7 linked regions of the Homo sapiens genome follow. The protein of the gene in region 3 interacts with the protein of the main gene of each other region in a biochemical or structural test. Each region holds a gene or a part of one and is shown on either strand. Other genes may lie near its edges. The genes, in order: ELMO1, ALK, APBB1, ABI1, CPSF7, CYFIP1 and TSHZ2.

Region 1 (3,500 bases), on a different chromosome or scaffold from region 3:
ATACCTGTGTTTCTCTGGGATGGTAATGTCAACATATGTTAATTGCCATTCCTCTTGCATTCCCAGGCTACTCCTTCATCCACACAATCCATGGCTTTTATATGCTTATTATGTTCTTGTTGCATTCTTAAGGGACTCGCACAAATCTCACTTGTCAACACAATTCAACTGGCAACTTCTCAGTCACCGGCCACTCTCTTAAACGAAAAACTCGTTACCCCTTTCTTCCAATTTCTGATGGTTAAAACAAGTTCTTTTCATCTCTCCCAAATTTAGCAAACAGGAAATCATTTAAGTGAGCAGTACTAAAAGTTAAAATACTACTTTAAGCTCCAAAATAGATTCTCTAAGGAATTAATCACTAAATCCCCAAACATAATAAATCACAATGTGAGCGGAAAATAAAATAGAGGTTAGAATAATGGATCGCAGTAATCCAAACACATGGGTACCATAAAGGTTTTATTTTAGAGGCCTCATTAAAAGTTATTACTGTCTGTTGACAGCTCACAATAAAAAGCCATTATTATATCAGCATAATGACTGTTCTTAAAAGCTAAATAACTTGGTTCCACGACAAGTAAACTCTTGCTGCTTCCCCCCTGTCAACACTAATTTCTCCCTTTTTTGCTGCCCCAGAGACCACTTGCCTCATCTCCTCTCCATCTTTGCACATGATAAATGCACAGCACACCATGGCAGTTCCCAGGTACCATCGGAATTGTCCCTAGTCCGCTGATTTCCAGGTGAAAGGAGGGGTGGGAGACGCAGATACCAACACTCTGCCTACCCCAGCTACATCTGGATCTCAGGGGTGGGAAATAATGTGAAGAAGTGCAGTGACATTATGATTTTACATTCCGAAAAGCTATTATTTTAAAATACAAACTTCAGGAAGAGTATGGAAATTTTCAGGTTCTCAAAAGACTGCTTCAGCTCTTCTCATGGCTAATAACCTTCTCCGACATGTTTACTATCCTTGGCAAGCCCTTGACTTATTCCTCGCAGTCTGCTCCAATCCACCAAATCTACCATGCTAAGGCCACCCTTCTTTCCCTAGGTCCATCTTTCTCTGACAAAAATCCAATTATTGTCACACTGTGTTCAGGGTTTAATACTTAACTTAGACATCTTCTAAACAGAGGATAAATTATCTGACTCCTCCCCCACCCCACCAAACCATTTTTCACGCTCTCGGCATAATTCTTGGCACTGGTATTAGGAAACTGAAGAACTCATAAAGAAATTCATTGACAATACTTCAGATTTTCTTGCAACTAATTTTCTCCTCATTCCCGGCTCCCCTGCTTGTCTCTATTTATTAAATTTGGATGTGCCTTAAGGATGCATGGAGGCTTCTGCCTGAGAAGCTGTTGCTGATATTGTCAAGCACCCTCCGCCTCCATCTTTATCCACTCTTTTCATTCAGCCAATATTTACTCATCATTAAGTGATCCATTTCAGTAACATGCATTGCGTGTGTACTATGTAACAGGCTTGCCCTGTCCCACAGAGCTGGAAATACAAAGATGAAAATAACAAACTTCAAGGACCTTACAGTCTAGTATGGACAGATAAAAAGGCATTTACTATGAAGTACACTGCGGGCCTATTCTTGGCATCCAAAAGGATGCCACCATTTGGATATTCCAAAAAAGCCAAAAATTAAAAAGGGGGATTATCAATCTCATTGTCTTCCTACTCCTCTCTTCCCAATTATCACTCTTTTCTAAGAATCCATAATCACTGGTGATTCATATTTCCAGCTGCCTATTTTATATCCCTGTGATACATCTGACATGTCTCCGTTTTGATACAGAGTATATACAAATAACACTGGCCCAGTGGTCTAACTCATTGCTGGGTTACTGAAACATAATCTTCTGCAGTTTATTTTATGTTCAAGTTTTCCATCAAATGGAAATTTACCCCCTGAATTAGTTGCCTACTTCCATAAATATCCTTTTTACAATATTTCCTTTCTTGAAATATTCAATCAGAACTCTCAGTGTTTTCTTCTTTTTTATTTTTTATTTTTTGAGACGGAATCTTGCTCTGTTGCCCAGGCTGGAGTGCAATGGTATGATCTCAGTTCACTGCAACCTCCACCTCTCCAGTTCAAGCAATTCTCCTGCCTCAGCCTCTTAAGTAGCTGGGATTACAGGCATGCACCACCACGCCAAGCTAATTTTTCTATTTTTAGTAGAGATGGCATTTCACCAGATTGGCCAGGCTGATATCGAACTCCTGACCTCAAGTAATCCACCCGCCTCGGCCTCCCAAAGTGCTGGGATTACAGGCATGAGCCACGGTACCCAGCCTACACTCAGTGTTTTCTGATATGAAGTATACCTTCTCATAATGGGTTTTAAAGTTCTCTATAAATCATTAACTCTTCTCTGCTGCCAGTGGGCTTGCTCAATGGTGGTAAAAATAATTTGCTGTCTTTGCTTTAATTCAGGCATATTTATATCCCACATACATATTCCATTTCCATTCATTATTTTTCTCCTAAGAAATGAATCCCTTACTTTCATGAAAGTATTCTTTAAAATTCATGTTCCTAGTAATTCACCTCTTCCTTGACATAAATAAACTAATCATTTCAGCAATCCTAAAGCATGTTACATAATGAGCATTTTGTGTAACACACCTGGGGCACTCAATGCATTACAGTCCTATGTACAAGTCTGAAGTAGATGCTAATGGTTTTCTGAAACTTAACTTCTTTCTTTTGTTTTATTTGTCACTGGTTTTAGCCAGATATTCAAATGACCTAATACTTCCACTTAATGAGTATTAATAACCAACGCATCAGGGCTGATCCAAGTGAATGTAATAACTGTCGTCCTCCAGGGAGCTTGAGACCAACTCCTTATAACTGAATGTATAAATTAGTTAATGGACACATGTCTCTACGTCCAGTTTGAAAACTATAGATCTTCATATAGCTAGAGAAGGTTATTCATGCCTATTTAAATTTTCATTTCCTTTATCCCCCAAAAGAGTAATAATGATTCCCTCTGCCTTTCAATTTATCCCAGCTCCATTACTGTACTTTTGGGTGACACAAGTGAGCCAACCCAAGCCAGCCACAGTACAGCTTCTCGAAAGTAGGCCTGTAACATAAGGAAGAAGCAAGAGGAGTTAGCAGTAATTAATTATACACACTAGCTCCTTGTACTGCTCATTCATTTAAAAATCTTGGCTAAATAAGAGAAATACTTATGTAACTTTTAAGAAGCTAAGGGGCATTACAGTGCATGAATCAACGATCCAATAAATACTTCTTAGAATCACTTAGAATGAGATCTTAAAATTCTCCTATGTTATCAAAACCTAAAAGAATCATGGAGGGCCGGGCACAGTGGCTCACACCTGTAATCCCAGAACTTTGGGAGGCCGAGGCGGGTGGATCACGAGGTCAGGAGATCGGCTAACATGGTGAAACCCCCATCTCTACTAAAAATACAAAAAATTAGCCAGGCGTGGTGGTGGGC
Region 2 (3,500 bases), on a different chromosome or scaffold from region 3:
GAGATAGAGACACACCACTCCTCACTCCTGCCATCTCCTGCCCCCGAAGTCCTTGAACTTGCCAAGTGCTGGGCTCCCAGACTCCCTTTGCAAAGTCCCTCTCCTTTGCATGCATACAACTTTCTCTCCTTAAGCCTCAGGAAGGTCCAGTGGGAGAACCAGGGCTGTGCCTCTTCCCAAAGTGTGATGCCACGTGTCCCCCACTGACAGCAGTGCTGCTGAGAATCTCAGGGCATGAGGGCCAAAGGCTCTGCCTTCCTAGGTGGTGGTGGGAAAGCCAGTGAATCTGATGCCTGTACCATGGCAGAGATGCCTGGATGCCTGGCAGTGTTGGCTCTAAGGACACAACCTCATCTTGATAGTTTACAGCTTCCCAGAGGGGACCACTGGATAAGCAGTAAGTTGGAGAGGGCACTGAATCAAGAGTCACAAGGCCTGAGTTCTAGTCCCAGCTCTTCCACTTCCTGTGTGGCCATGGCAAGTCCCGTAATCTCTCTGGGCCACCGTTTTCTCATCCATAGAATTGGGGAGAGACCTGCATTGTCTGTTCATAGGGTGGTGTTGAGAAATGTGAAAGGTCTGAGGAGGATGCCAGCTGATGAGGGCTCTTATGAGACAGACAGGTGTAGTCTTTATCTCCCTGCTCCCTGCCCAGTCCTCCTGCCAGGTATGCTCAGGTGCACACAAATTCCTCTTCTCAAGGGGTAAGACAGTATTCTTCTTAGATACTGAGATGCGTCACCCAGTGGCTAAGGTGAAGGTATTTTACATGGATCCTGACTGAAGGTGGAGATCAGAATAGCTATGACCTTGCAGGGCTTCCATCACCACTTTGAGTCCCTTTGAGCAGTGTGGTCAGGTTGGGCTTTCTGGAACCACTGGCTGTCAGTCTTCCCTCCTTTCCTGGGAGCGGGAGGGTGGCCGCTGCTTTTACTGTGCAAGTCTTCCTTGTGATCCCCATAGTACAGTGGTTCGTTGAGGAAGCCTGGATCCTAACCTTGGGGCCTGCTCAGCTCCAGTTCCTGGTATCCGGGGCCTGCTGAAGACCTGCAGACCCAAGCATGGGCAGCTGGGCTCTGGGTCTGCCCAGGGTGCTATGTTTAATAATTTAGAACCACCTTTGAGATGTTCTAGTCCAATCCTCAGATCTCACCTGTGAGGATACCCAGGTTAAAGGTTTAAGACTGCCCTAAACTACACGGGTGTCTAATGGCCAAGTTGGAGCTGGAGCTTGGGATTCCTGGGTCCACCCTGGGTATCTTCACTTCCCAAGCTCTGTTAACCATAAGATGTGTGTAGCACCTTCCTAAATATACGGTTGGAATGTCCAGGTATTATTATCCCTACTTGAGACGTGAGGACTGTGGGCTCTGAATGAGTAGCTGCAGAGTGACCTGCCCAGGTCAGTTGCTTGAGTAGTTACATGGCTGTCATGAAAGTTCTCCTCTGTGTTTGTCTCTAGTTTGGTTTTCCAGAGTCAGCAGGCCATGAGAATGGATCCAGGCTATAGAATGTGGATATGGTTTGGATTTGTGTCCCTGCCCAAATCTTACGTTGAATTGTAATCCCTAGTGTTGGAGGAGGGGCCTGGTGGGAGGTGATTGGACCATGGGTGGATTTCCCCCTTGCTATTCTCATGATAGTGAGTGAGTTCTCATGAGACCTGGTTGTTTAAAAGTGTACAGCGCTTCCCCCTTCATTCTGCTCCTGCCATGTAAGACGTGCCTCCTTCCCCTTCACCTTCTGCAATGATTGTAAGTTTCCTGAGGCCTCCCCAACCATGCTTCCTGTACAGCCTGCAGAACTATGAGCCACTTAAATCTCTTTTCTTTGTAAATTACTCAGAGTCAGGTAGTTCTTATATAAATGCAAGAATGGACTAATACAAATGCATTGCAGGAGCCTTGCACAAGCTCCTTGGGGCTGGGGCTCAGCCATCATCTACCTCTATCTTCTGTCCATTCTCTTCCAGCCAGTCAGTCACCCCCCTGTCCAAGCCTAAAGTTGACACCCTGGGTTCCATCGAGGAACTTGCTACCCAGGCTGCCCACTCTTGCTCCTTCCATCCTTGCTCCTGTCCTTGGCACAACAACTGCAGCAAAGACTGGTTCTCACTCACCGGGCGAGGGCGGGTCTCTCGGAGGAAGGACTTGAGGTCTCCCCCCGCCATGAGCTCCAGCAGGATGAACCGGGGCAGGGATTGCAGGCTCACCCCAATGCAGCGAACAATGTTCTGGTGGTTGAATTTGCTGCAGAGCAGAGAGGGATGTAACCAAAATTAACTGAGCTGAGTCTGGGCAAATCTTAAACTGGGAGGAACAGGATACAAAGTTACATTTTCAGCAGCTACAATGTATAAAGGCATTCTGTAAACATGGGCAGCAGGGGTCCCGGGCTGAGCCTAAACCCAGAATCTTGCTGGTGAGCAGGTGGGAAGAACCACAGCAGGCTCCACAGGAGTTCCATTTGCAGGAGAGTGGCTGGAGCTGTGAGGATGTTGCTCAGGCACTTGGGTGAGGAAGTGTCTCAGGGGGCAGGAGAGTGTCTTTCTCAGATACTGGTGCGTGGACTGGGTGCTAGAATTCATGGTCGATTTCTCCCAGGAAGGCCTCAGGCAGAAGGTGAAGCAAAACAACTGCTTCCAAGAGAGACTGGGTGAGACTTGCCAAGTGACAGCGTGTGAAACAGAGCCAGCAAAAGGGGATGGCCTCACGAGTCTATCAGTTTCCCGTGGATTCCTCATGGGAGGGACCAAGACTTGGGTTTTCTTGTTAACATGATCCCTTTAGGACACACAGGGCAGTAGGGCCTAGGAATTCCACATGGGCCAACATGCATGTGTGTGCATACACACATGTACACACAGCCCCCCAAGTGTTGAAAGACTGGGTGATTAGACACCAACATAATAATGGTTAGTTACCACCAAGTAGTGAGATTTGAGTGATATGGGTCTTCTTCAATATAATCTCATACTTGCCAAGTTTTATTCATAATCAGGAATTATATGTATCATCAGAAAATAAATGTTATTTTGTGTGTCCTCCTGTGGTTCCAGACCTCACAGCCATATCACTCACACTGCCTGGCCTTGTTACCCCTGCCACTTCCACCAAGGGGACATCCCAGTCTGCCCCCACCTGTCAGGACGTTCAGAGTCTTCCCAGTGTGACAGGGGGCCATGAGCCCCCACCTGATCTTGAGGTCAAATATCTGCCCCCTCCTTGAGGGGATCTGCTGTCACAGCGGACGCCCTCAGGAGCCATAGGCACTGAGACTCTCAGCTTAAATCCAGATCTTGGAGCCTCAAGTCAAAAGGTGCAGCCAGCTGAGACTCAGCCCTGCTGATGGGAGCCTAGGATGGGGTGGCCTCCCATCATATTAGAAGCACAATTACTGGGATTGGTGAAGGGTCTTGGAGGGAGATTATATCTTGTACTGTCAAAGTCTAGCATGCTCCATTTCTTAAGAAAAAGTGAGGGAAGAAGAACCAGTGGATA
Region 3 (3,500 bases):
CCAAGGTGGCTGCACACCTGACGAGAGTTATTCAGGCAGGGTGCTTCACCATCCTCAGCTTCCAAATGACGTGGGCCCACAGACACCCAAAGAGGAGGGGCTCTTGCCCATCCACCTTCTAGGCAGCCATCACCGCCTCTCCTCACCCCCACTTCCCCCTAACTCACACTCTATGGAATAAGGTTTTCAATAGGCACCTGAAACTTAGCTGAGGCTCAGGGAATACCTGCTGTTCCCTAGAGACCCTCCATTGCCTCAGGACTCTCCTGCTAAAACCTTCCAGGAACAGCACCCTAGGGCCTCCATGCCCTCCACAGCCACAGCCTGCTTCATGAGGGCTGGCTGGACACTTCTGGAATCTGGGGACCAGTTCACCATCTCCTGACTGAGTCACACACACCAATCCATCTGCCATCCCTGTCAGCCTGTACCTTCCTGCTTCAAAGAGCTTCATCCTTCCGATCTGTCCTGGAAGGGCAGTTTCTCCCCCCTTGGCCATCTGGGAGGCCCTTCTGGAGCTTGGCACATCTCCCTCCAAGCGCAGCCCACCCCGGCCTTTGCTTTCACACACATGCATTTATTCCAGAACGCACACCTTCACTCCTGCATCGATTCATGCGACACTTACATATAAAATACATTAAATGTTCACGTATCATTCCTTCCTTCCTTCATTCGTTCATCCACAAATGCCTTAGTGGTGAAGCCAGGTGTACTCACTTGCTCAGGAATCAGTGATTGACTTAAAGCTTTCCCCTTCTCTCCACCCCACATAACTAACATAGCCCAGGCTACTAGCTTTTTTTTTTTTAACCTGCATCATTGCAAAAACATCATAACTGGTCTTTCTCTTCCTATCTGGTCTCCTCCAATCTCAGCTGCACAGTACAGCCCAAATGATTCTTCTGAGATGCTAAACTAATCAAGTAATTTTCCAACGGAATCCTCTTAATTGTTTTGTCACTGCCCTCAGGATAAAGTCCAAATTCCTCCCCAGGTTTTATGTGCTGTCATGAACCCCTGTCTGCCTCTCAGCCTTACCTCCAGCCACTCCCCTTCTCTCTCTTTGCTTGGGACATGCCCCCTTGTCCTCTCCCAGCCCACCTCCCTTACTCTCGATTTTCACCTGGCTATCACCTACCTCTCCTTCAGACATCAGTATACAGGTCCCTTCTTAAAACTGACCCATTGCCCTCTCCCCCACCACTCTCACAGGCAGGGTCAGGGGCCCCTCCTGTACTTCCCCAGCCCCAGAGAGCTCATCGCACTGATCATAACCACTTGTTTCTTTCTTTGTCTCCTCACCAGGCTGTGAAGGCCAGGAGGTAAGAACATCTTTGCCCCATAGTATACATTTCCAGCATTTACGATAAGGCCTGGAGCAGAGTATGAATTCAATACAGGTAGTAAAGTTTATTCATTCATCATTCATTTAATTCATGAATTCATGCATTTATGCATTCAATCCATAGCTCTATGAATATCCTACAATAGGAAGGAGAATATAATTTTTGCTCAATTCTAGCCTCATTTCTGCAGGAGCACAAACCTTCTCTGCAGCCCTCATGGTCATAGCAACACAGTTGTAAAAGAGTGACTTGGCCCCTTTCCTGGGCTGGCCCCCACCTCTATCCTCAATTCACAATGTCTCCACCAGTGCATGATCCTTGAGAATCCTCTTGCCACTCCAACATCCTTGCTGAGGTCACTGCCCAGCAAACCCGCCCCAGCTCTTCAGCAGTACTATCCCCCTACTCCTAGAAGCTTCATAGGTAGTTCAGAGTTGCAGCCCCCACAGTGACCATCCCAGGGGCAAGTGAGCAACTAGGCCTCTATTTGGTCACTGACTCACACCCCCTAGTCTTGCAAACTTCCAACCTACAACCTGCAGACTGATGCAAGCCTCAGATAGATTGTGTGTGGCCTGCACAGTGCTTTTTAAAAAATAGAATTTGTTGTTAACGTTTAGAAATTGGGCTATTTTACACCAATATCTAGTTTTCAGTTTCCCTTTAACTGGCTGCATTGAGACTATATTTTTCCTCACCCCAATCCCAAAAATAATCAGCTGGAGTGCAGGAGGGGCTGTTCCTTTTAAAAGGAGTTGAGACAATGACCACCAAAGGCCACTAACATCACAAAAAAGAGAGGCAATCAGACTTTGCCTTTAGTAGAAGTATTTTTTTTTTTTTTTTTGAGACGGAGTCTCGCTCTGTCGCCCGGGCCGGACTGCGGACTGCAGTGGCGCAATCTCGGCTCACTGCAAGCTCCGCTTCCCGGGTTCACGCCATTCTCCTGCCTCAGCCTCCCGAGTAGCTGGGACTACAGGCGCCCGCCACCGCGCCCGGCTAATTTTTTGTATTTTTAGTAGAGACGGGGTTTCACCTTGTTAGCCAGTATGGTCTCGATCTCCTGACCTCATGATCCACCCGCCTCGGCCTCCCAAAGTGCTGGGATTACAGGCGTGAGCCACCGCGCCCGGCCTAGTAGAAGTATTTAATACCACCTATGAAATATTCTTGCAAAAGCAAAACACAAAAATGCTCAAATCTGAATCTGATCAAGGCTCTAGAACTAACTACCAATTTACAGGAAATCCAGGGGAAGAGGAGCATGGTAAATATGACCACAGGAGAGAGTCTGAAAAATCCAAACCATAGAAAACTCAGGACAAGCAACATGATTCTCCAGTTAAAAAACAAAAGCAAAACTGCAAACAACAACAACGAAAAAAATAGAAGGGGAACTTGATCAAACATAACTTTAACAGATAGATCAGGCCAGACATGGTTGCTCACACCTGTAAGCCTAGTGCTTTGGGAAGCCAAGGTAGGAGGATTGTTTGAGAACAGGAGTTCAAGACCAGCCTGGGCAACATGGTGAGACACTGTCTCTACATTTTTTTTTTCCTTCTTTTTTTTTTTTTTGAGAAGGAGTCTCGCTCTTATTGCCCAGGCTGGAGTACAATGGCTCTATCTCAGCTCACCACAACCTCTGTCTCCCGGGTTCAAGTGATTCTCCTGCCTCAACCTCCCGAGTAGCTGGGATTACAGGCGTTTGTAACCACGCCCAGCTAATTTTGTATTTTTAGTAGAGACAAGGTTTCACCATGTTGGCCAGGCTGATCTCGAACTCCTGACCTCACGTGATCCACCTGCCTCGGCCTCCCAAAGTGCTGGGATTACAGGCATAAGCCACCATGCCCAGCCAATGTTTGTGTTTTTTGTAGAGACAGGGTTTCACCATGTTAACCAGGCTGTTTCTGAACTCCTGGCCTCAAGCAATCCACCCACCTTAGCCTTTCAAAATGCTGGGATTACAGGCGTGAGCCACTGTGCCCAGGCTCAATCCAGCCTTTTTTTGGCAGGATATTTAATGATATTAAAGAATTATTATTAAATTTTTGTAGGTACAATAATGATATTGTGGTGGGTTTTTTTTTTAAGAGTTTTATCTTTCAGAAATGCAAAAGTAAACTGTTGTTGTTGTTGTTGAGAAAG
Region 4 (3,500 bases), on a different chromosome or scaffold from region 3:
TGGGCCAGAGAGTAATAGGAAAAGCATGAAAGAAAGGTCTATCAGAGAAGCCAAAGGATTAACTTCTCAAAAAAAGTAGGAAAAACCAACCATGCAAAATGATGCAGAGAAAAAAAGCACATGAGAACTAAAATGGGAAAGAATTTTGCAACATGGAGGTTATTAGCATTCAGAGAGCAGTGGAAATAGAACAGGTTAAAGAGTGAATGAAAAGTGGGAGATGGAGGAAAATGCTTGGTTTTTTGTTTTTATTTTAAAAGACAGGGTTTCACTGTTGCCCAGGCTGGAGTGCAGTGGCGCAACCATAGCTCACTGCAGCCTCAAACTCCTGGGCTCAAGTGATCCTCCCACCTCAGTCTGCCAAGTAGCTGGGACTACAGACTAAGCTAATTTTTTTTTTTTTTTTTTTTTTTTTTGAGACAGGGTCTTGCTTTGTTACCCAAGCTGATCTCAAACTCCTGGGCTCAAGCAATCCTCCCACCTCAACCTCCCAAGTAACTGGGATTACAGACTTGAGCCACTGCAGCTAGCTGACAATAGTGTAATAAAACTAGTTAATCCATAAAGGAGAGATAGGTCAGTTACTAGATGAGTATATGAAGTCAAAAGAGTTTTCAAGTACGACAGAGATCTGAAATGTTTCAATTGTGAAAGCACAAATTCAGTAAAGAGAGGAGGTATAAACTTATCAGGAGCATAAGGTTTACAAAAAGGCAGGACAGGATATGACCCACAGTTAGGACTTTAGCTAGGAGGAAGAATGTCTCTCTTCCATTATAAAAAGGAGTAGAATAGGGTGAGCGAGGATAGCAGGTTTGGAGATGCAGTGGTAAGAAATTATAGGTCTTATATGATGAAGTCTATTTTCTCTATGAACCAAAAGACAAGAAAGGAAAGGGTCAGATTTCAAAAAGGGAGAAAAAAATTAAAATAGTTTGTGGTAAGTGGAAGAACAAACTGGCGAGGTTATCTAGTGGGATTGCCTAACTATGTTGAGGGCGCACTTTTGAGTAATAATCAATTTTAAAATGACACCCATGAGCTGAGCATGGTGGGAGGGGCTTGGGGGGAAAGTCTGTAGACCCAGCTACTCAGGAGGCTGAGATGGGAGGATCGCTTGACCCCAGAATTACGAGGACAGCTGGGGAACATAGGAGACCCCAACCCTCATAAAAATTAAAAATAAAATGGCACCCATGTACTCTTTTCTCTATATTGCCTTATTAAAATAAGAATCTGGGCCGAGCACGGTGGCTCACGCCTGTAATCCCAACATTTTGGGAGGCCGAGATGGGTGGATCACCTGAGGTTGGGAGTTCGAGACCAGCCTGACCAACATGGAGAAACCCTGTCTCTACTAAAAATACAAAATTAGCCAGGCGTGGTGGCGCATCCCTGTAATCCCAGCTACTCAGGATGCCGAGGCAGGAGAATTGATTGAACCCAGGAGGCAGAAGTTGAGGTGAGCAGAGATTGTGCCATTATACTCTAGCCTGGGCAACAAGAACGAAACTCTGTCTCAAAAAAATAAAATAAAATAAGCATCTGTTGTTACAACTCTTAAGTTGCTAATATTTGACGTAGTAGGAAACATCTTTTTCTATATGATATAATATATACATTTCTGATGTTTAAGTGGAGGGCATTAATTTCCCATGGGTTCTGAAAAAGTGCCACACTTGCCTTTCCATAGAAGGAAAAATAAAATGTACCAAATACAATTTTGTCAAAGAATGTAGAAATTATTAATAAAAATTAATGATAAAGCATTCAGGAAATGAGTGAATTAAAGGTAAATTGAAGTTTTTCAAAAATGTGTTTTTGCTGGTCGGGCATGGTGGCTCACGCCTGTAATCCCAACACTTCGGGAGGCCAAGGCAGGAGGATCACTTGAGTCCAGGAGTTCAGGACAAACCTGGGCAACACGGCAAAATCCCATCTCTACAAAAATTACAAAAAATTAGCTGGGTGTGGTCCCTCATTAACAGATTTTCTTCATAAACACGGGTTCACTACCAACTATGTCTGAGAAAGTTTTATTTTGTAGATGGAGAAAATTAGTAGATCCAAAGTTAAAAGTACTTATTTGGATTGACACACAGTAGTCAAATCTCAAGTCTCCATTCTAAGGGATGGATATTTACTGTTAAAATGACCACGTCAACTATTTCCTTTAAAAACAAAATCGATGGCGTGAACCCGGGAGGCGGAGCTTGCAGTGAGCCGAGATCACACCACTGCACTCCGGCCTGGGTGACAGAGCGAGACTCCATCTCAAAAAAAAAAAAAAAAAAAATCCAGTAATTGCTACTTTCCTATTGTCTTATTTCTCAACAATGCCCTTTTTTTTTTTTAAAAAAAATCCCTTTTTTCTAACATGATGTCTTAGTAAATATTAAGATCTACAAAGTTTGTAGTTCTGGGGTTTGACTATTATTTCTTCTACAATCAAACCATAATTTCAATAAATATTACAATCAACACAAGATGATATTAGGAAAAATATACAACCTCCCAATCAAAACTTTGTAAATGCTTCAAAATTAGCATTAACTATCAATTTTACCTTACTTTTTTTTTTTTTTTTTTTTGAGACGGAGTCTCGCTCTGTCACCCAGGCTGCCAGGCTGGAGTTCAGTGGCACAATCTCAGCTCACTGCAAGCTCCGCCTCCGGGTTCACGCCATTCAGCCGCCTCAGCCTCCCAGGTAGCTGGGACTACAGATGCCCGCCACCACACCCAGCTAACTTTGTTTCTGTATTTTTAGTAGAGACGGGGTTTCACCATGTTAGCCAGGATGGTCTCGATCTTCTGACCTCATGATCCGCCCGCCTCATCCTCCCAAAGTGCTGGGATTACAGGTGTGAGCCACCACGCCCAGCCTTTACCTTACTTTTCATGCCAACACTATTTTCATGGGTTTTATAGATTTATATCTGCACAATATCCTAGAGTTTGATCCAACCTCTTGTCCCAATATGAACACTCTTCCTTTCTGGCTAACATATTTTTGACTGTTAACTGTCTTAATTCTTAGGACATAATTTCACTGAATATAAATAAGGTTACTGTAAATGGTCACACAGCAGATCCCCAGTTGCCTAAATATCTCCTTTCCACAAGGACTATTAGCATTCCTGAGCTATCAGAATCAACTGGAGAACGCAGAAGCACACAAGAAAAATTTGCAAGTATCCTAAGAGATTATTTCAATAATTTTCTAAGAAAACTCTCCAAAAGACAGAAGCATGCTAAAATTGAGGTTCTAAACAGACCAGGACTAGTCAGAAGTACTACATATAAAGCTGTTATTAGTATTAAAGCCACAAAAGAAAAAAGAGAAGACATTAGTTTTAATACAAATTTGCAAATATTATATAGTCCTAAAAATATGCAGTATTCTCACCTTGAGAGTATTAGCAAGAACTGATATATGTGATATGGACTTTCATAAGAACTGATATGCTGGGTTCACAGACTTGGTGTGAAAGAAGAAAAAA
Region 5 (3,500 bases), about 55 Mb from region 3:
CACAGTTTGAGGCACAGGCTCGGAAACGTGAGTGTGTCCGAGTCCCAAGAGGGGGTACGTGGAGACCATCTGTATGAGGGGGGGGTGTTTGTGGGTTTGTTTTCTATGGTGTAGGCTTAGCCTACAGTGTGGGTGAGTTTGGGGGAGGGTGATGGTGGTTGTGAGTGGTGTCATGGTCGACAAGTAGTCCTCAGAATAGGTCTATATAGAAGAAAGAGCATTGTGCTGGGAGTCAAGTAGGTTCAGGTTGTAGTTTGGTTCTGCCACTGACTCGTGTGACCTTGGCCAAGTCACTTTACTACTTAGGGCCTGTTTCCCCATCTGGACTAGTGACATGATGTTTAAAGTTCCATCACCTCTAAATTCTGTGTTTCTGTCTAAAACTTGGCATTAGGTGAATGGGCTTAATTTTTAAGACATGCCTCTCTATAAATTATCAAGAAGCAGCCACCCTAAAATGTAACTAAAAGGTGCCTATAATCTTTTCATAAACGTTGATTGGAAGGATACTGTAAGGAATCAACCAAGAGGAGTGTTGGAGAATAAGACTTGAACAATATTTCTCCAGCATTGTCCAGGGGAGAGGGTGCTCTTTTGATTACCAAATGTTTTAGTCTGCTTGGCAGTTATATCCCATTAGTAAAGAAAGTTACAGGCCGGGCGCGGTGGCTCACGCCTATAATCCCAGCACTTTGAGAGGCCGAGGTGGGTGGATCACGAGGTCAAGAGTTTGAGACCAGCCTGGCCAACATGGTGAAACCCCATCTCTACTAAGAATACAAAAATTAGCCGGGTGTGGGTGACACATGCCTGTAATCCCAGCTACACGGGAGACTGAGGCAGGAGAATTGCTTGACCCCGGGAGACGGAGGTTGCTGTGAGCTGAGATCAGACCACTGCACTCCAGCCTGGGCAACAGAGCAAGACTCCATCTTGGAGGGAAAATAAAAAAGTTAGGGGCTGGGCATGGTGGCTCACACCTGTAATCCCAGTGCTTTGGAAGGCTGAGGCGGGCAGATACCTGAGGTCAGGAGTTCGAGACCAGCCTGGGCAACATGGCAAAACCCTGTCTTTACTAAAAATACAAAACTTAACCAGTTATGGTGGCACATGCTTATAATCTCAGCTACTCGGGAGTCTGAGGCAGGTGAATCTCTTGAATCCAGGAGGTGGAGGTTGCAGTGACCTGAGATTGCACCACTGCCTTCCAGCCTGGGTGACAGAGTGAGACTCTGTCTCAAAAAAAAAAAAGAAAAAAGAAAGTTACCTCAGAACTACCTTAGTTTGAGGACAGTTTCCCCAATGTCCATCTTACTCTCTTTATTCTGACTGTACTCACTAAGCCACTTTCTGATGCTAATTTGGTTTCCCAATTAGGGTCTCCTACTAGGAAGAGAATTCGCTGACCAGCCGACACAAGTATTCTGGTCTGCTTGGCAATTACATTTCTCATTGTAAATTAATAAATTGGTGTTATGGTTTATGAATCAGTCTCTTGTGAGTTTGGTTAGCATGAATCAGTCTCCTAGGGCCTAGTCACCCCAGTTGAAGCAAGTTTCTGAACCTGAGAAACCTGAGGACTAGACCTTGGATTTTCCTGACCTCATAAAGTGCAGCCACCCTGCAAGACCTTCCCTGAGACAGCCAACCACCCTTATTTTCTTTTGCTACAGTGGGAGGAACAGCAAAGTTTCATCACTGATGTTCTGTCACTGCTTAGGTCCAGCTCTCAAAATAGTGCCTTGTATTGATTGGGTGTATCCTCCAGGTAGAAATAGGACCACTTTGCTCTTGCATAGGAACAGCTGTTCTTTTAACTAGATTGACAGCCTAGATAGATTTGGTGTGAACTCTTGTTGTTCCATGTTAGAAAGGACACACTCTTCTTCCTTGACAAGTTGTATTTTCAAGTCCCCTCTGTTTTGGAGTCTTTCTGTAATTCACCCCTGACTTTCCTTAGGTATGTAATTTTACAACTGTATTGGGGGTAACGTTCTACTTCTACTCAGCTACTTTTCATGTTACTTTTTTTTGCTGAAAAGATTGTGTAACTGAGTGCTGTTTTTCTGCTCTGTCATGCTGATGGACCTGGGCTCTGTTAATTCACTAAGTAAAGCTGGTGGACTTCCTCTGCATAGAAATGTTGCGTCTTTTGGGACTTGTAGCCATAGATACAAAACAACCTTTGCAGATGTGACAACAGTAGTAGCTGGGAAAGTGGTTAACTGTCAGATGACACTTGCCTTATACCTTTTTGTTCTTCAGTTTGAGAGAACTCTAGGAAAGAGCCAGTTGCCATGTGTTTGAGACCTGAAGAACAAGACAGCACTGGCACTGTTCTGTAAGAGAAATCTAGGTGGTTGTCAACATAATTGATTCCACCTTAGGCTTTACTCAGGAGCTGGGATTAACTATCATATTCTAGTTTAAGGAGCACTCTTTCCTCCACACTTGCTGCCAGTGGCATCTTTCTATCTCCAAGACCCCCCCAAAGCCATGTGATCTTGTTCTTCTATTGGATTCCACAATAAACAGGCTTAGACTGTTAAACTGGAGAGAAGGAACAAGTTTAACCAAGTGACTTGACAATGTCAGAATCCATGCTTCCAGCTGTTTAAAACATGTTCTGAGCTCCTGTTGTGCACAGCACCATACTAGCATGTGGTGATGGTGTTCCTGTTAGGCTGCCCTGAAGGGTAGAGGATTTTGGCCATTGAAATGTAGCGGGAGTTCCCCAGATTGGAGACATGTTTTGTAGCAAGCTTTTGCTAAGCATCCTTACTGTCAGCTGTGTGCTATCTGCTTGTGCTGTGGGCGGATCTTTTATTGGCGTATCTCCCAATTTTTCTTATCTTTCACTTAACCTCCAGTTGTCTAGTCTTCATGTGTGTCTCTTTCTCACCCTGATTACTAGTTTTAGTATGTAAATAGAAGTGCCATCCAGTTCCTGCCACTCCCTCTCTTCCCTTAAATTCCCTAGCCAACACCCTGTGGCAAAGAGAACATTTTAAGTGTGCAACAGGAAGAGGTTAACTAGTATTAGTTTAAGGAGAGAGGTCCTGAACTCTTCAGGAGATGTGGGGTTTCAAGTCAACTGCAATTCACCTGAACATCAGTGAACACTGTCATTTTCTCGTGGGCTATCAGGATCCTTCTACATTTAAAAATAGAAGATACATATAAGGATAAATTAAATCTGTTCTGAAGCACTTCTGGAGTTATGGATGGAAAACATTCTTTGACAGGATTTAGGACGATATTGTTTTTTGGATTTAATGTCTTCACTGAGTTGCTTCTGACCTCTGAAGCCAAAAAAAAGGCAGTAGATGATTTTACCTTCTCAGCCTCTTTAGTCACCTTCCTTTGTAGGGTGTCTGATAACTTCTGAAGGATGAACTGGTCCTGTGGGTTTGTGTAAAGCCTGGGCAGTAACATCAGTTCTGTTTTGCTTCATAGGAATACCTCCACGGGCCCATTCCCGAGATTCTAGTGATTCTGCT
Region 6 (3,500 bases), on a different chromosome or scaffold from region 3:
TGAATGGATATTTCTCAAAAGAAGGTGTACAAGTGGCCAACAGGTGTATGAAAAAATGCTCAACATCGCTAATCATCAGGGAATCCAAATCAAAACCACAATGAGCTATCACCTCACACCTGTCAGACTGGCTCTTGTCAAAAAGGCAAAAGATAACAAGTGTTGTCCAGGGTGTGGAGAAAGGGAAACCCTTGTACACTGTTGGTGGAGATGTAAATCAGTATAGCCATTGTAGAAAACAGTGCCGGGGGTTCCTCAAAATATTAAAAATAGAACTACCATATGACCCAGCAACACCACTGTTGGGTATATATCTAAAAGAAATGAAATCCGTATGTCCAAGAGATCGCTGTACCCCATGTTTATTGCAGCACCTTTCACAACAGCCAAGACATGGAATCAACCTAACTGTCCATCAACAGATGAGCAAGGCCGGGCCTGGTGGCTCACATCTGTAATCCTAGCACTTTCAGGAGGAAAGGAGGATTGCTCCAGCCCAGAAGTTCAAGACCAGCCTGGGCAACATAGTGATACCCCATCTCCATTTAAAAAATAATTAAAATTAAAAAAACAAAAACAGGCCGGACACGATGGCTCATGCCTATAATCCCAGTACTGGGAGGCCGAGGCAGATGAATCACTTGAGGCCAGGAGTTCGAGACCAGCCTGGCCAACACGGTGAAACCCCTTCCTCTACTAAAAATGCAAAAAAATTAGTCAGGCTTGGTGGCACCTCCTGTAATCCCAGGTACTTGGGAAGCTGAGGCATGAGAATCACTGGAACCCAGGAGGCGGAGGTTGCAGTAAGCTGAGATCACACCACTGCACTCCAGCCTGGGTGACAGAGTGAGACCCTGTCTCAAAACAAACAAACAAAAACTGGATTATGGTGATGGTTGTTGCACAGCTCCAGAAATCTTCTAAAAATTATTGTATAGTTGTCCCTGAAACAACACGTGTTTGAACCATGCGGGTCCACTTATTTGCAGACTTTTTCCAGTAAAAGTTACACGGTGTATGCCTGCCTCTCTAGCCCCTCCTTCCACCTCCCTCCACTTCTGCCTTTGCCACCCCCAAGACAGCAAAACCAACCCATCCACTTCCTCCTCCTTGGCCTGCTCACTGTGAGCTTTTTGAGGATGGAGACCTTTCTGATGATCCACTTCCACGTGATGAGTAGTCAGTTTATTTCCTCTTCCTCATGATTTTCTTAACAACATTTTCTTTTCTCTAGCTTACTTTATTATGAGAACACAGTATGTAATACATATAACTTACAAAATCTCTGTTAATCAACTGTTTATGTTATCAGTAAGGTTTCTGGTCAATAGCAGGCTATTCGTAGTTTTAACTTTTGGGAAGTCACGTAGTTTTAACTTTTGAGAAGTCAAAAGTTATACTTGTCCAGCCTGGCCAACATGGTGAAATCCCATCTCTACTAAAAATATAAAATTAGCCAGGCATGGTGGCGGGTGCCTGTAATCTCAGCTACTCAGGAGGCCGAGGCAGGAGAATCGCTTGAACCCGGGAGGCAGAGCTTGCAGTGAGCCGAGACAGAGCGAGACTCCGTCTCAAAAAAAAAAAAAAAAAAAAAAAAGGTTAAAGGCCAGGCTCGGTGGCTAACGCCTGTAATCCCAGCACTCTGGGAGGCAGAGGCAGAGGCGGGCAGATCACCTGAGGTCAGGAGGTCGAGATCAGCCTGACCAACACAGTGAAACCCCCTCTCTACTAAAAATACAAAATTAGTGGGAGTGGTGGCGCATGCCTGTAATCCAAGCTACTTGGGAGGCTGAGGCAGGAGAATGGCTTAAACCCAGGAGGCAGAGGTTGCAGTGTGCCAAGATCGTGCCATTGCACTCTATCCTGGGCAATAAGAGCGAAACTCCATCTCAAAAAAAGTTACACTCGGATTTTCAACTGCACAGGGGGTTGGAATCCCTAACCCCCTCGTTCACAGGCCAGCCAAACGTATACTTAAAAGTAGGTGAATTTTATAAAGTAGGTATATTATACCTCAATAAACAAAATTTTTGTTTAAAATTTTTGTTTTTAAAGCATGCTAATATTTTTAAATTGGAATTGGGTTAAATTTATAGATCAATATGAAGAGAACTGATGTCTTTACTATGTTGAGTGTTCCAACCACTGACCATGGTATGTTCCCCCATTTACTTAAATGATCTTTGATTTCTCTCATCTTCAGCATACAGATCCTGTAAGTCTTATTCAATGTATACCTAAGTATTTGATTCCTTTGAAGCAAACGAAATGTTGTGTTTTTAAATTTAATTTTCTTTTTTTTTTTTTGAGACGGAGTCTCGCTCTGTTGCCCAGGCTGGACTGCAGTGGCGCGATCTCGGCTCACCACAACCTCCGCCTCCCGGGTTCAGGCGATTCTCCTGCTTCAGCCTCCTGAGTAGCTGGGACTACAGGCGCACGCCACCATGCCCAACTAATTTTTGTATTTTTAGTAGAGACAGGGTTTCACTATGTTGGCCAGGCTGGTCTCGAACTCCTGCCCTTGTGATCCGCCCGCCTCGGCCTCCCAAAGTGCTGGGATTACAGGCGTGAGCAACCACGCCCAGCCAAATTTAACTTTCTAATTGTACATTGCTAGTACAGTAGTCCCCACTTACCTGTAGTTTCATTATCTGCAATTTCTGTTTCCCCAGTTATAGCTGCCTACAGTCAACTGCCCTCCAAAAATAGGTGAGTGCATACAAAAAGATATTTTGAAAGAGAGAACACATTTATATAACTTTTATTCAGTATATAATTATTCTATATTATGAACAGTTATTGTTGGTAATCTCTTACTGCGCCTAATTTGTAAATTAAGCTTTATCATAGGCATAGATGTATAGGGAAAAAAACCACAGTACACGGAGGGTTCTGTCTTATCTCAGGTTTCAGGCTTCCATTGGAACGTATCGTCCATGGATAACAAGGACTGTTGTAAACAGAAATAAGGTCAGCTTGTATAGTGTTGACTTTGCATGTATCTCCCCATGGATAAGGGGCACTGCTGTATGCAGAAATAAGGTCGCCAGGCCGGGCCCGGTGGCTCACGCCTATAATCCTAGCACTTTGGGAGGCCGAGGCAGGCGGATCACCTGAGGTTGGGAGTTCCAGACCAGCCTGACCAACACGGAGAAACCCCATCTCTACTAAAAACACAAAATTAGCCAGACATGGTGGCACATGCCTGTAATCCCAGCTACTCGGGAGGCTGAGGCAGGAGAATCGCTTGAACCCGGGAGGCAGAGGTTGCGGTGGGCCGAGATCGCACCATTGCACTCTAGCCTGGGCAACAAGAATGAAACTCTGTCTCAAAAAAAAAAAAGAAAAATAAGGTCGCCTTCTGTGTGTTGACTTTGTATCTTGTGACCTTGCTAACCTCATTAATTAGTTCTAGTAGCTTTTTCATAGATTCCCTGGATTTTCTATGTAGATAATCATGTTGTCAGCAAATAGGGACAATTTTCCCTTTCCAATTTGTA
Region 7 (3,500 bases), on a different chromosome or scaffold from region 3:
TGAGGGTTCTTCCTTGGGTCCTTCCTGGCAACTCGCTATGACTATTCTAGATAAACGATCATAATAAATTAAATGCATGGACTTTGGAAGCAGGAAGAGCTGAGTTTAAAACTCAGCTTGGCTACCGCACGAACTTGAATGAGTTATCCTGCAACTTACTCAGATTCTCATCAGTAAAACAGGGATTATACTTGAAAGTTATAAGGAACAGGACTTAGCCCAGATGTCCCCTCCTCTGAGAGGTCTCCCCTGACCATCTACATCTCTGTTGTCCCAACTCCTGCTCTCATAATTTTGCTTTTATAAAGCTATTGCCATCATGAAGCTTTTTTTCTATACTGAAATTATCTTTTCCTTTATAAATTTCTTTGTATATTCTCTAGCTTCCCCCAATTGGAGGGCAAGATCCCCAGGGATCATCCCCATCCTATTCACCTCCAGGTCCAGGTAGTAGAACAGCATCTGACACATAGTAGGAACTCAAGAAATAACTGCCGTGTAAACGAATAAATGTAAACATATAAAGCACGTGGTATGTAAAAAGCACTTGTTTAGTGGCAGATATCATTGTTACCATTGTTACCGTTGTTGGTGGTGCTATAAATTCTATTTCTTGGGAAAGAAACTCTTTTTTGAGCGGGTGCTGGACTCCAAACAGCCCAGAATGAGTCTGCCTCAGGAGAAGAGGCTAAAACACTGCTTAGCCATTGTGTTTCCAGGCTTACAAATCAAAATCCATCCATATCTGGTTTCTTTCAAGCCCTGGACCCCTTGTTCTGTGATAACTGGTAAGTTGCTTGTTTCCCAGTTAATATAAATTTTCCATAGTCTGGTTATTCAGGGTAAAGACACACTATTCCCTCGTATCCCTGTGGTGCCTAACAGTTTCAGCACACTTTCTCAGCCCTCCTCTGACACAATCCTTTCCACACACCTGGAACATATGATTGCCCCCATTTTATAGATTAGAAAGTGGAGGGCAGAGATTTGAGCAGCCTGCCCAAGTTTACGCGGCCGAATAAGAATTAGACCTAGAGACTTGAACTTCAATCAGTCTGACTCCAAAAACTCACATTCTTACCCGGAGAGTAAGGTTTATCTCTAGAGCTTGCCCGGGGCTAAATAACTAGCGTGGGGCAAGGCTGCAACCAGAACCCAAGTCACTTGCCCTTACTCCGCTGTTCCATCCACAGTCTCAAATCTAATCCCAAGGGGGAAAACAAGAAGAAGCACTCAGCAGTGTACCCAACTTTCTAATAAAGGAAAATAGCCAAAGGCAATTCTGATATAAAACGCATTTATGGCTTTTCATTTTGGCATTTCTTCTGTACCAAATGGCACCGTGCACATAGAATAGATTTGACTCTTCTCTACAGCATCATCTTGGCCCAGAAGCTATTCATATCTCTCTGGGGTATAAAAGAGAGGCTCCTAAATACATAAAAAAAATTCCAAGGATCTGATAAATTGAAGTGATTTAAAGTAAGCCCTGTGCAGTTTATATAGAGATATTTATATGCCACTGCTCTCACTTACACAAGCCATTTTTCCCCTATAGAAGACCTTGACCCTCTGTCTCATTTTTGTATCTCCCATGTCACAAGGTTTCATGGGTTTTTCATGATCCAGTAAAGCATTACGGAAGTTTCTTTCAAATTCATTACAAATAGAATGGCTGCTGCCAACTCTGTTTTTATCTCATTCTGCCCTTCGTAACTATTTTCATTAAAAGCAATAACTGTATTCTACCCACCTTAATATCTAAACTATATAATTTCCATAGAAATGGCTTAGATGTGGCTTTAAGAAGAAAGCTCAGGGGTGATTTTAGAGTATTCCTTCAGTTCTGAAAGCACTCAAGTAATTAAGACCAGTGATCTTAATTTTTATACTAACAGAAACTGCAGAATGCTGGCCTTTTTTTTTTTTTCTTCAAACCCACCTTAGTGTCTAGCAGTGTTGTGGAAACATGAGGCCTTTCCTTAATCATAAATGGACACTACAGCTTTTCAATTAAATTAGTCTTTGGAGAGAGATGCAAAAGAGCTAAAAAGCTCCTTAAAAAAATCTTCCCTGCTTCACCGCTTCTCATTTGCCAAGAAGAGATGTTTAGCTAAAACGCAATGCTGTTGTCTTCTTATCCTGCCGCAACAAAGTTCTCTTGATCTTGAACCCTGAGCTAGCTATCTTACGAAGATCCTTGAGGTTTTTCTTTTGGTTTGCATGCCCACATTTGGTTTTCTGAAACAATTTTTTAAAAAGTGTTGTGTAATATAGTGTCTTACATCTGTGTGTCCAGAGAGAGTTTCATTAGTCCCTGCTTCAGGCTGGGGTAGCAGGTAGGAGGATATTGAAATTGTTTTTTAAATGACACAGGTAGAAAGAGAGCTCTCATTTAGATGAGCAGAATTCAAGACAAATGCTTTCAAATATGATCCAGGTATTTCTTCCCCCCATGTAATTTCTCTAAGCTCATTATCTCTAAAACTTTTGCATTGTGCGTTTTCCTGTTGTTATGCATAGCTAAATAATACTGATATATTAATAATCGGATTATCTTGCTGTGCCTCCTGAATTTTAATTTCTAAAATTGTAAATAATTTTAGCATGACTTTAGCATCCCAGAATATTTGAGGGTGCCCAGAGGATGTCTTTTTCTACAGGGGAAACGTAAAAAATTGAGGGAGGCAACAACTGAAAATTCCAAATGGCCATTTTAATGACTTTCAAATGCCTCCAAATTATTGAATCATTTCATTCATGGAGTTTGCTTTGGAAACAAATATATCAGCAATTCCCACTCGCATCTCAGATTTCTCTTCTGTGTCTCTGTGTATGTATATAATGTCTTTGAACGGACCTCAGTCTGATACCCTTGGACAAAATAATTTCTCGGACAAAATGAGCAATATGGATACGGCCACACTGCTGGAGACGCTCCCCATTCATGTGCAAGTTAAAGTTGAAACTATGTGTTTGCAGAGGTGCTTTCTCATTAGTTTGCAGACCTAGACTAGCAGTGAACCGTTGGGCTCTGAAGTCTCTAATTTTTATTACAATGTCTTAAAATCTGATGTATCTTGAAATCCACTTTAAATGCTATCTCTAAACGTTCTTCTCAGAAAAAGTTCCCAAAACAAGTGAATGAAAGGTCAGTAGGAGGAAAAAAAAAAGAAATTATAAATCCAGTGAAAATAGTGTTACATGTTAGAGGCATGTAAATAGATGGTGTTTTTTTCTTACTGTAATATTCAGGTAAGCAAGCAAGTACTCTCCACTTTCTTATGTGGTTAGAATGACTAACTTCCTCCTATAATCGAAGAGCTGCTTGCCAAAGATCACCCTAAGGAATGTGAGAATTTCTAACTTTAAATAGAACTTGTAAAACTTAAAAAAAAAATTAAAAATACCAATTGTTACAAATTACTGAAAAATGAATGTAAAAACCTATTCTGGGGTAAGCAGACTCTATAAAGATAGAAGGATAAGCTCTCCCTGAT

The links.
Region 1: the proteins of APBB1 (region 3) and ELMO1 form a complex in vitro, tested with the Homo sapiens proteins (one study listed by BioGRID).
Region 2: of the proteins of APBB1 (region 3) and ALK, one has a biochemical effect on the other in vitro, tested with the Homo sapiens proteins (one study listed by BioGRID).
Region 4: the proteins of APBB1 (region 3) and ABI1 form a complex in vitro, tested with the Homo sapiens proteins (one study listed by BioGRID).
Region 5: the proteins of APBB1 (region 3) and CPSF7 form a complex in vitro, tested with the Homo sapiens proteins (one study listed by BioGRID).
Region 6: the proteins of APBB1 (region 3) and CYFIP1 form a complex in vitro, tested with the Homo sapiens proteins (one study listed by BioGRID).
Region 7: the proteins of APBB1 (region 3) and TSHZ2 form a complex in vitro, tested with the Homo sapiens proteins (one study listed by BioGRID).

Annotation. Positions count from the first base shown.
Region 1 is NC_000007.14:37,225,365-37,228,864, forward strand, and holds part of ELMO1 (engulfment and cell motility protein 1), read right to left. Parts: intron 1-3,500. UniProt on the Homo sapiens protein: Involved in cytoskeletal rearrangements required for phagocytosis of apoptotic cells and cell motility. Acts in association with DOCK1 and CRK. Was initially proposed to be required in complex with DOCK1 to activate Rac Rho small GTPases.
Region 2 is NC_000002.12:29,218,587-29,222,086, forward strand, and holds part of ALK (ALK tyrosine kinase receptor isoform 1 precursor), read right to left. Parts: intron 2,250-3,500; coding exon 2,120-2,249; intron 1-2,119. UniProt on the Homo sapiens protein: Neuronal receptor tyrosine kinase that is essentially and transiently expressed in specific regions of the central and peripheral nervous systems and plays an important role in the genesis and differentiation of the nervous system.
Region 3 is NC_000011.10:6,405,595-6,409,094, forward strand, and holds part of APBB1 (amyloid beta precursor protein binding family B member 1), read right to left. Parts: intron 70-3,500; exon of another isoform or gene 1-69. UniProt on the Homo sapiens protein: Transcription coregulator that can have both coactivator and corepressor functions. Adapter protein that forms a transcriptionally active complex with the gamma-secretase-derived amyloid precursor protein (APP) intracellular domain.
Region 4 is NC_000010.11:26,850,959-26,854,458, forward strand, and holds part of ABI1 (abl interactor 1), read right to left. Parts: intron 1-3,500. UniProt on the Homo sapiens protein: May act in negative regulation of cell growth and transformation by interacting with nonreceptor tyrosine kinases ABL1 and/or ABL2. May play a role in regulation of EGF-induced Erk pathway activation. Involved in cytoskeletal reorganization and EGFR signaling.
Region 5 is NC_000011.10:61,416,476-61,419,975, reverse strand, and holds part of CPSF7 (cleavage and polyadenylation specificity factor subunit 7), read left to right. Parts: coding exon 1-27; coding exon of another isoform or gene 28-54; intron 55-3,456; coding exon 3,457-3,500.
Region 6 is NC_000015.10:22,973,869-22,977,368, forward strand, and holds part of CYFIP1 (cytoplasmic FMR1-interacting protein 1), read right to left. Parts: intron 1-3,500. UniProt on the Homo sapiens protein: Component of the CYFIP1-EIF4E-FMR1 complex which binds to the mRNA cap and mediates translational repression. In the CYFIP1-EIF4E-FMR1 complex this subunit is an adapter between EIF4E and FMR1.
Region 7 is NC_000020.11:52,978,858-52,982,357, reverse strand, and holds part of TSHZ2 (teashirt homolog 2), read right to left. Parts: intron 1-3,500. UniProt on the Homo sapiens protein: Probable transcriptional regulator involved in developmental processes. May act as a transcriptional repressor.